Linked DNA regions of Homo sapiens. The protein of the gene in region 3 purifies or fractionates together with the protein of the main gene of each other region. This does not show direct contact. Each region holds a gene or a part of one and is shown on either strand. Other genes may lie near its edges. The genes, in order: ACSF2, MCCC1 and ARHGEF26.

Region 1 (3,728 bases), on a different chromosome or scaffold from region 3:
CACCAGGTCCTTCATATTTATCTTGTTGATGATGGCTCGGATCAACTCTGGAGGTGCAGGGGACCCAGCAATGACACCTGAATCAGAGAGAGGGCTGACACAGCTCCCCAATTCTCCAGGCCCAGTGGAGTCCTTTCACCTACAGCTCATTCAGGGGAGGAACATTCCCTTTTCTCCTCTGACCCCGAGCCTTTCCTACACCTGGCAGCTGGCCCTGGGCTGGTGTCCAGGGACACTGGGGATCTCCCTCCCTCCCACCCACATTTTTACAGCGTCCTTCTTGCCCCCTATATAAAAGACTGGGAGCATAGCTAACTCACCCGGGCCATTCCTGTGGGGGAAGCAGCCCCCTCCCCAAGCCTGGCTGCCCTTGGCCCCACCCCACCTCCACACATGGTCGAGATGTCATAACTGGAGAAGTCTGGCTGGTTCAGAATGTCCACGAACATCGTGGGGGTACCATACAGGAAGGTGCCTCTGTATAGGAGGAGGTCTCGAAATTAGGCTTGGAAGTGGAAGGGAACTCCCTGTTCTCACCCACCCCGCCATGAAACTGCAGCAAAGGGAATAGGCAGGAGAAGCTCCTGAGGCAGGAACTGGTCCTCTCCTGGGGGTCCTCCACTGTCCCCATCCTCAGTCTCCTGGCTGGAGGGAGGAGGCAGCTTGGAAAGGTGTCAGGGCCCAGGAGTGAGGAAGAAGAGGGTTTTATCAGCCCACAAGTAGCCTGTCCACCAGTGCCCACCTCTCTCTGCTGATGGCCTCCAGTGCCTTCTTGCCATTGAAGATGGGAGAGGCCAGGATGAGGGTGGCACCGTACATCAGACACATCATTGTGCCTGCCACGGAACCCAGGCAATGGTACAGGGGGTTGGGCAGGATCATCCGCAACTGCTCTGGTGTCTGGTGATGGAGACAGGAGGCTGGGTCTGTCTTGGAGCCAGACGCCAGTTCCTCTCTAGCTGGCAAGGGGAGCCCAGCCAGCCCCCCACCCCTGCCTGAGCCACCCCTCCTGCAGCCTTGCCCTGGGCCTAGTGCCGCCTCACCTTCTCATGCAGTTTCAGGCGCTCTCCTAAAATGTTGGAGTTGTTGACAATGTTGTAGTGGGAGAGGGTGGCCCCCTTGGGGCTGCCTGTTGTCCCCTGACAAGGCAAACAGGGCATGGCTTGGCCTCCTTCTCATCTCCTTCCCACCCTGGGCCACTGCCTTGAAGAGCACGGGACCGGGAATCAGGAGACAGGGATTGTTGCCCCAGATCCATCTGTTCAGTATATTTGCAAAAGGTCTACCACGATACCAGGTGTCAGGGTCCAGCAATGCAGAAGATAAGGTCTCCGTTCTCATGCCACTTACATGGCCCAGAGAACTCTGCCACCCACAAGCTGGCTTGGGCAAATTCTCTCTTCTGCGTCTCTGATTCCTCATCAGCTAAATGAGGGGCAGCCTGTAGCAGTTCCAACCTGTGTTGGTTCAGTGAATCTGCCACTGCACCGGGAACAAGAGGGCTGGAGTGGAGAGGGCGGGGGGCTAGGGGAGGAAATGTGACAAGGACACCAGGTGCTGATATTTTCCAGGGCAGAGAGGACAGCTGAAGGCCAGTCTCAGTAAAGAAGGCATGCTCTCCTCTGCTGTCTCCCCATCCCCGCGGAAGTGTCACAGGGACAGGGGGCATGTGTCCATCTGGGCTTGGGGCCTGGAGACCTCTGCCCTACCGAGGTGAACTGGATGTTGATGGGGTCATGGCAGGACAGGAACTGCTGGTTGTATTGGAGCTGGTCCAGATGCTGCCGTGTGCTGCCAGCCGCCACCACTTCATCCAGGAGCAGGGTCCCCGGCAAAGGGGCATCCACCGAGATGACTGTGGTCAGATCTGGGAGCCTGGGGTTGGGGACGATGGTGAGAGACAGGGGCTGAGGGAGGGGGCAGGGTGGGTAGGAAGTGAAGGAATCAGGGATGCTGAATGATGCACCACCCACTAACCTGGGACACACCCACCTCTGACTCTTCAAGGCCCCTGGCTGGGCATTCTCCACTTCTGGACAGATCTGCTTCAGGACGTTGTAGTATTGCTGGGTCTTGAATTGCTTGGGGAACACAAGGGCCTTGCAGCCCACCTGTGGAAGGGGAGTCCCCCACCTCCAGTCAGCGGGGAGCCCCAGACTAGAGCTCTGGGGGAGTCCTCACTAATCAGCTGCTCTCATACAGATGCACCCGCTTCTGACACACACACCTCCAGCACACTCACAGGCACCACACTCCAAGACAAATGCACACATGTACCAGCCCCGAGACACACACACCACACCCTGAGACACATATGCATCACATATGAGGATGGACACACGCACACACACACACACACACACACACCTCTGCCCTGACACACACATGCCCCCGTCCCTGCACACTCACGCCAGGTTTGTGTCTGACCAACCACGCTCTCCTTGGAGTTGGGGCCACCTTCCAATCACACATGGCCTAAGGAAGGACACTCTGCGTATCACCCGCCTATGCATGCCCTAGCTCACACCGTCAGACTCTGACAAGCAGAGTCTGTGCAGCCCCCTGTGCCAGGCCCCAGCCGGGCCCCTCCCCGACAAATGAGCTGTACCTTCTTGAGGACATACTCCAGTTCCATAGCCTGGTAGGCTGGGTTCACAGACACCTGGTGGAAGCGGCGAGGGCATATCAGTATTCTGGGCAGACCCTGTCCCTCCTGCTGCCCCTCCGCCCCCAGGAGGCATAGAGGCAGCACTCTACAGCCCCCTAACTCCCAGAGACCTCCTTGGTGGGCCTCAGGAGAAAGCACTACCTGGTTTGAAACCAACAAGGCACTGGTTTGATCCTGGGGCTGAGGGCCTGAGGGGCTCCCCTTCAGTGATGTTCCCCCATGCACACCAAGCTGTGCCAAGCAAGCCCCTCCTCACCAGAATGATGCCCGCCTGGGCGGTGGCCAACTGCATGAGCACCCATGCATAGGAGTTAGGTCCCCACATGCCCAGCCGGTCACCTTTGCAGAGGCCAATGCTCAGGAGGCCAGAAGCAGCTTTGTCCACCTAGTGTAAAAGATGGGGCGCAAGGGGTGAAAGGGGGCAAGCAGGAAGGGGCCCAAGACTCCCACCCTCAGCCCTTAGCCCGGAGTTCTCATCACAGTCACTGGGGACAAAGGGACAGGCAGATTCCCAGCCTCAGTGGGTCTGCCCTGGGGCCTGCATAGTTAACAGGTGCCCCAGGAGCTGCTGATACAGGAGGCATTGGACCCCTTGTGCGTCAGTCCTGTCTCCTTCTCCTGCCATCCCTCGGGGTTCTCTGGCAGCCCTAGCACATTGCCCCATAGCCAGGTGCCCACGCTCCTGGTTCTGCCCAGCTAGGGCAGCTTGGGAGCTAGTACTTGCCCACTTTGAGGTTTCCAGGTCAGGACCCACCTCCTCCTTGAGTTGGGCAAAGGTCAACCTGACGTCTTCATGGAGGACGACCAAGGCCTCTCGTTCTGGGACCCTCTGTGCTGTGGTCTCCAGGCACTGGCCCACAGTCTTGCTGTTAAGATGCTTTTTGGTGCACCCCTGAACGTAGCTGAGGCCTCCGATGGGCGTGGAGACCATGCGATCCACCTCTCTGGAACTGTAGGGAGAGGAGCTATGGGTTTGACTGTCCCAGATCAGTCTCCCTGGAACCAAGGGCATGGCACACCCAGCCAAGCCAGGGGGTAGGCTGCTGACAATGTGTTAGAG
Region 2 (3,728 bases), about 29 Mb from region 3:
ACATGAACAGGCACTTCTCAAAAGAAGACATACATGTGACCAACAAACATGAAAAAAAGCTCAATATCACTGATCATTAGAGAAACGCAAATCAAAACCACAATGAGACACCATCTCACACCAGTCAGAATGGCTATTACTAAGAAGTCAAAAAAATAACAGATGTCAGGAGGTTGTGGAGAAAAGGGAACGCTTATACACTGTTGGTAGGAGTGTAAATTAGTTCAACCATTGTGGAAAGCAGCAGGGTGATTCCTCAAAGAGCTAAAAGCAAAACTGCCATTCAACCCAGCAATCCCATTACTGGTTGATACCCAGAGGAATATAAATTATTCTACCATAAAGACACATGTGCATGTATGTTCATTGCATCATTCACAATAGCAAAGTCATTGAATCAGCCTAAATGCCCATCAGTGACAGATTGGATGAAGAAAAGGTGGTACATATACACCACGGAATACTATGCAGCCATAATAAAGCATAAGATCACATCTTTTGCGGGAACATGGATGGAGCTGGAAGCTATTATCCTTAGCAAACTCCCACAGGAACAGAAAACCAAATACTGCATGTTCTCACTTAGAAGTGGGAGCTGAATGATAAGAACTTAAGAACACAAAGAAGGAAACAAAAGACACTGGGGTCTACCTGAGTGGGGAAGGTGGGAGGGAGAGGAGCAGAAAAGATAACTATTGAATACTGGGCTTAATACCTGGGTGACGAACTCTGTACAACAAACCCCTGTGACATGTATTCACCTGTGTAATCTTCACATGCACCCCAAACCTAAAATAAAAGTTAATAAAATAAAATTGAACTTTGGTTTAAAAGATATAAAACTCTAAACTGGCTGCAACATATGAGTATCCAGCATTTTATCTGTATCTGGCATTGCATTGTTTCCTGTCACTAGGATGTGGGTTTTTCTATTCGTATGAGTTTCCCAGATATGTGAAGCTTACCCCTTTAATTTTGAAATGTTCTTTGAGTGTAACTATTTTGAAACAGGATTGGCTGAACCTTTGTGTTTTTACATTGTTTTGGTCATAATTATAATACTCGCTCACATTTTAGAAGAACAAATCCCCTCAGGGCTACTGATGTTGGAGAGGGTGTGGCTTCATCACTCATTAAATCATCCAAGTCTTCTCTGCCTTTTGCCTCCTTCTGTTTCTTCCCTTTTTGCTGTCAGCGTGTTTACTTTTAGAAATCTTGCTGTCCTTCAGTTACTGAATTTCCTCTTCTGTGGGCTAAAATCCCAGTAAGTATGTTTGTTAAAATTCTGAGTACACTGGAAGTAACTAGGCTGAAGTCTGAGGGATGCCCTTTTCACTGAAAGTACACGTACAGTTGTCCCCTTTATCCACGGTTTTGCTTTGAGTGGTTTCAGTTACCTGCAGTCTACTATGGTGTGAAAATATTAAATGGAAAATTCCAGAAATCAACAATTGATAAGTTTCAAATTGCACGCCATTCTGAGTCACACAGTGAGATCTTGCACAGTCTGCTTTGTCCCTCCCAGGATGTGAATCGTCCCTTTGTCCAGTGTCTCCACGCTGTCTCCACTCCCCATCTGTTAGTCACTCAGGAGCCATCTAGGTTATCAAATTGACTGTCATGGTACCACCATGCTTGTGTTCAAGTCACCCTTATTTTATTTAAATCATGGCCCCAAAATGCAAGAGCAATGATGGTGGCAATTCACTTATGCTAAAGAGAAGCCATGAAATGCTTCTTTTAAGTGAAAAGGTGAAAATTCTCAAGGAAAGAAAAAAATATGTATGTTGAGGTTTCTTGGTTCTTGGTAAGGACCAAGTTTCTATCTGTGAAATTGTGAAGAAGGAAAAACAAATTCATGTCATTTTCCTGTTGCACCTCAAACTGCAAAACTTATGGCCACAGGGCATGGCAAGTACTTAGTTAAGATGGGAAAGGCATTACATTTGTGATTGGAAGACATGAACAGAAGCGTGGTCAAATTGGTATCAGTCCAGTTCTGTAGTATTCATAGTTTCAGGCATCCACTAGGGATCTTGGATAAGGGGACACTCCTGTAGACTTTAATACATGACTTTCATTTGCTTCTTAGCTTTTTTTCTGGAAAGATGACATTGATGACCTGAAGATAAGTGAGGTATTTATTGAGCTAGTGTTCTGTTTGGGGCTTTTGGATGCCATGATTTCAATTCTAGGCCAGTTTTACACAGAGACAGAATAGACAAATTCCCCTTACCACTCTGAAGCCCTTTACTTCTTGACATTCTACCCTAATTGCAATATTATTTTAAATTTAAGTATATAGAAACTTCTGTACCATATGATCCAGCAATTCCACTTTTGGTATACAGCTAGAAGAATTTAAAGCAGGGACTCAAAACAGATACTTGTATACCAATACTTGTTGTTCACAGCAGCAGTATTCACAATGTGTAGAAATAACACAATGTCCATCAAGAGATTAATGGATAAACAAAATGTGTACAAACTGGATATTATTCAACCTTAAAAACAAATGGAATTTTGATACATGTTACATGAATGAACCTTGAAAACATTATGCTAGGTGAAATAAGCCAAACTCAGACAAATTATTATACGCTTCCACTTACATGAGGTACTTTGGCTAGAGAAATTCATAAACAGAAAGTAAAATCCTGGTTACTAGGGACTAAGGAAAGGGAGGGAATGGAGAATTATGTTTGGAGATTAAAACATCCTGAGGATGGATGGTGATGACAGTTGCCCAACATTGTGAGTGTACTTAATGCCACTGAATTACATACTTGCAAGTAACTAAAATGGTCAGTGTTTTGCTATGTATATATTATCACAATAAAAAGAAATATAGATTCATCTGGTTTAGGTAAGCCTTCAGAGCTTTCATATGAATATTTCAGATATTTCTTTGGAAACAGAGTTTAATAGAGACCATACTATTACCAGTGTAGGGAGAGGCCTCCCAGAGGAAGACAGCTTCACCTGCATTAAGGTGTTGCCAGTTGAGCACTGATGAGTAAATTTTTTATTTTATTTCTCATTTCTAGGCTATCCATCCAGGATGCGGTTTTCTCTCAGAAAACATGGAATTTGCTGAACTTTGTAAGCAAGAAGGAATTATTTTTATAGGCCCTCCTCCATCTGCAATTAGAGACATGGGTATAAAGAGGTATGAGTTTATATCTTTTAAAATATAACTGTATGAAGGTCAGTTGAAATAGTTTGGGCCAGGCATGTGGCTATGCCTGTAATACCAGTGTTTTGGGAGACTGAGGCAGGAGGATAGCTTGAGGCCAGGAATTCAAGACCAGCCTGGGCAACTTAGTGAGACCTTGTCTCTCAAAATTCTTTTTTTTAAATCAGCCAGGCCTGGGCACAGTGGCTCACACCTGTAATCCCAGCACTTTGGGAGGCCAAGGTGGGAGGATCACTTGAGCCCAGAAGTTTAAGACCAGCCTGGGCAACACAGGGAGACCCTGTCTCTACAAAATTTTTTAAAAATTCCAGGCATGGTGGCACGTGCCTGTGGGTCCAGCATCTTGGGAGGCTGAGGTGGGAGGATTGCTTGAGCCCAGGAGATCAAGGCTGCAGTGAGCTGTGATCACACCATCATACTTCAGTCTGGGTGACAGAGTAAGACCCCATCTCAAAAAAAAAAAAAAAAATTCAGCTGGGTATGGTGACACACACCTGTAGTCCCAGCTGCTTAGGAGGCTGAGGCAGAAGGA
Region 3 (3,500 bases):
GGTTTGTCATTGATCAAAACAATATTATGCAATGCGTGACTGTATTATGTTTCCTCTTATGTTCGCATTATAGCTTTTGTGTATGCTTTTCCTGTAGCTCTGTAGCTTCTCAGCTTTCAGACCTTAGACTTTCCTCATTGACCAAATATCTGACTGCCAGACTAGATCACACCCTACTGACAGTCTGTTCTCACCTCTATATAAATCCTTCAGTTTGTAGGTATGTATTTGTGTAAGATCATTATGTTCTCAAACTTATAGTGACTTGCCATCACATTTTGAGTAAAAATCAAAGTCCTTTAATGGCTGAGGCAAGGCCCTACATGATCAGCCCTCTGGTCACCCACAACTCCCATCTTCTTCTTCTTTTTTTTATTTTGAGATGGGGTCCAGTCTGGAGTGTAGTGGCATGATCTCGGCTCACTGCAACTTCTGCTTCCCAGGTTCAAGCAGTTCTTCTGCCTCAGCCTCCCGAGTAGCTGGGACCACAGGGGTGCACCACCACACTCGGCTAATTTGTTGTATTTTTGATAGAGGCAGGATCTCACTATGTTGCCCAGGCTGGTCTCGAACTCCTGACCTCAAGTGATCTGCCCATGTCAGCCTCCCAAAGTGCTGAGATTACAAGTGTGAGCCACCATGCCCGCCGGCCTCAACTCCCATCTTCTGTACTTTCCCCCCATTTCCTTGTACTCCAGCCATGCAGTCCTCCTTGCTGCTCTTGGTACATACAGACATACCAAGTAGACTCATGCCCCAGGGCTTTGCACTTGCTGTGTCCCTGATGAGATGCTGTTTGGGCACTAGTTCTTCATCAGAGTCAACATCAAGGGCCTTTTCTTTGTAGTTTTGATACAGGTGGCTCACTTTCTCACCTGTTCTATGTCTTTACTTAATTGTCACTCCAGTGAGGCCTTCCTAAACTACCCTACTTAACATCTACATGCCCTCCTCCCAGCGCTTTCTACCCCCCTTCCCTGTTTCATGTTTCTTCATGACACTTATCAGCATCAAAATACTATCAAAGTTATTTGCTTATTTATTGCAGTTCTCTCATGCTTTAGTATCAGCTCCTGAATATTGAGATTTTTAGTGTCTATTATTGTATTTCACGTGCTAAGCTGTTGCCGGTTCCTAGTAGGTGTTTTCTAAGTAACAGTTGAATGAATAAATGCATGAGTGAATTTGACAGTTTTTTTAATTAAACTGTTAGCTCATGAGAGGTGGATGAGGGCATGAGAGCTCATGAGGCATCAGAGGTGTCTTTCTTTTGTTTTCCATTTTACTCTCAGCCCTTGGCACGTCATAGATACACAATAAATGTTTATTAAATAGATAAATGAATGGTGATGGACCTTAAATAAAAGATAGGATGTAATTTAACCTAAATTACAGTGATTTAACAGGCCTGACTGTCCTTCATGAGTAGTGGACAGAGACATGGAAACTGCTTCTGTTGGCATTCTCTGTATGGGCTGGTCCCCTTCCCCTGCAGTTGAGTTTGAGATAGAGCTATGTGAATGAGAAAATCACTTTTCTGTAATTATTCTTCAGGGACTAAATCTGTTTGTCTCTCTGTTTATAAAATTGGAGGCCAAACATTGGGTACATATGATGTTTATTTAGAACAAGTAACATAATGATTGAGAACAATTAGTGACACATAGGCCTTGTTTTCTTGCAGAAAATGCTGTCCTGTATCAAAACTACAAGGAAAAGGCCCTTGACATTGATTCTGATGAAGAGTCAGAGCCCAAAGAACAGAAGTCAGATGAAAAAATTGTGATTCACCATAAGCCATTGAGATCCACATGGAGCCAACTCTCTGCGGTGAGTGTTTATCTTCTTTTCTATCTGTGGTAGGAAAAAAACAAGTTTTGGAAATTATGTGTGGATTTGGCTTTTGTTCTTTTCTGCCAGTGATCCTGTAACTAAGGAGAAAGACTCTTTTTAGATTGTGAAATGTTTCTCGGAACTCTGCCCGCACTAATGAGAACATGAACTTTGACACTTCTGATCAGGAAAATTAGGTTTGATAAAATAAAGTGCTATGAGATTGATGTACTGTGACCTCTGGAAACTCTTTCTGCGAGATCTCTCTTTTTGTTAAATATAGCCTGCACTTTATCATAATTATGGCTATTTACATATATATGCGTGTGTGTTTATGTATGTATGCGTGTATATGTACATGTATGTATGTACCTGTATATGTATCTCTGCACAATAGAAAGCTAGTTACAATTCTTCCTTGGAAATTTTTTTTTTTTTTTTTGAGATGAGGTCTTGCTCTGTCGCCCAGGCTGGAGTTCAGTGGCGTGATCTCGGCTCACTGCAGTCTCCCAGGTTCATGTGATTCTCCTGCCTCAGCCTCCTGAGTAGCTAGGACTGTAGGCGTGTGCCACCATACCCAGCTAATTTTTGTATTTTTAGTAGAGATGAGATTTCACCGTATTGGCCAGGCTGGTCTTGAATTCCTGCCCTCTAGTGATCCGCCTGCCTCAGCCTCCCAAAGTGCTGGGATTACAGGCATGAGCCACCGCATCTAGCCCTTCCTTGGAAATTTAATTTGATATAGAAATGTTTATATATTCTTAAAGCTGATTAATGAATGATATTCTGTTCCATCTCTGTGCCTTTTTTGTATGCCTGTCTCTGACACTTAATTTTGTGTTGATGAGTAATTTCTCCTCTCTGCATCAGACACCTTTTGTTTTTTAACTGTATATTTTTTTCCTCCTGGCTTACAATGTCACAGTTTGATGCTTAGTTTACTTGATAAGAGTTTGGGCACAGCATTTGCGAATATCTGATGAATTAGCAAGTAGAAAGGAATTCCCATGGCTGGCTTGGTTCAGGGGAGCTTTGCATCAAAAACAAGCCAGTACACCTCCATGAGTCCTTAGGCAATATCAGAGCAGAGGTGACAGAGATGTTTAGAATCAGGAATCTTGTGTATTTAGGGAACCCACTGGTGTAAGAAAAGGAGTTGTTAATGTTGGTGCTGTATAGCCAGGGCCGTGGGAATATGTGTATGTAAACGGTGGGAGACAACTTCTGCTTCAAGCTCTACCTTCCCTCTTCTAACCTGTATTGGAATTCAAAATTCAATACACCAAGCGCTTTCTCCCTGTCTTCTTCCCACCTCCTAATTTTGTTCTCAGGAGAATCTGTTCATTTCCAGGGCCTCTGAGGTATAGCACCCTTATGATTATGCCAAAAATTAAAATATTCACAGTGTCAGGGGAAGTAGAATGAATATGTGATGCTGGTATATGTAGGTGATAGGGAGTGGTGGGAGCTGTGGTGAACAGGCCTTATATAAATTGAGCAGCTACTACTTAGCTCAAACCAGGTGAGTGCAGGGGCTCAGTGTGACCAGATGTTCTGATAATTAGAAAAGAGAATGTACAAATCCAGACTTTTATGAGTATTTTCTCAACTCAAATTTTAAAGAAATGTTGTGTGTCCAAGAAAGTATTCAGATTTGCCCTCTATGC

What was found.
Region 1: the proteins of ARHGEF26 (region 3) and ACSF2 purify together in Homo sapiens (affinity purification with mass spectrometry; one large-scale study listed by BioGRID and IntAct). This does not show direct contact.
Region 2: the proteins of ARHGEF26 (region 3) and MCCC1 purify together in Homo sapiens (affinity purification with mass spectrometry; one large-scale study listed by BioGRID and IntAct). This does not show direct contact.

What each region holds. Positions count from the first base shown.
Region 1 is NC_000017.11:50,460,567-50,464,294, reverse strand, and holds part of ACSF2 (medium-chain acyl-CoA ligase ACSF2, mitochondrial isoform 2 precursor), read right to left. Parts: intron 3,619-3,728; coding exon 3,423-3,618; intron 3,054-3,422; coding exon 2,925-3,053; intron 2,663-2,924; coding exon 2,609-2,662; intron 2,112-2,608; coding exon 1,993-2,111; intron 1,876-1,992; coding exon 1,710-1,875; intron 1,140-1,709; coding exon 1,044-1,139; intron 901-1,043; coding exon 743-900; intron 478-742; coding exon 386-477; intron 78-385; coding exon 1-77. UniProt on the Homo sapiens protein: Acyl-CoA synthases catalyze the initial reaction in fatty acid metabolism, by forming a thioester with CoA. Has some preference toward medium-chain substrates. Plays a role in adipocyte differentiation.
Region 2 is NC_000003.12:183,071,807-183,075,534, reverse strand, and holds part of MCCC1 (methylcrotonoyl-CoA carboxylase subunit alpha, mitochondrial isoform 1 precursor), read left to right. Parts: intron 1-3,047; coding exon 3,048-3,169; intron 3,170-3,728.
Region 3 is NC_000003.12:154,127,890-154,131,389, forward strand, and holds part of ARHGEF26 (rho guanine nucleotide exchange factor 26), read left to right. Parts: intron 1-1,684; coding exon 1,685-1,830; intron 1,831-3,500. UniProt on the Homo sapiens protein: Activates RhoG GTPase by promoting the exchange of GDP by GTP. Required for the formation of membrane ruffles during macropinocytosis. Required for the formation of cup-like structures during trans-endothelial migration of leukocytes.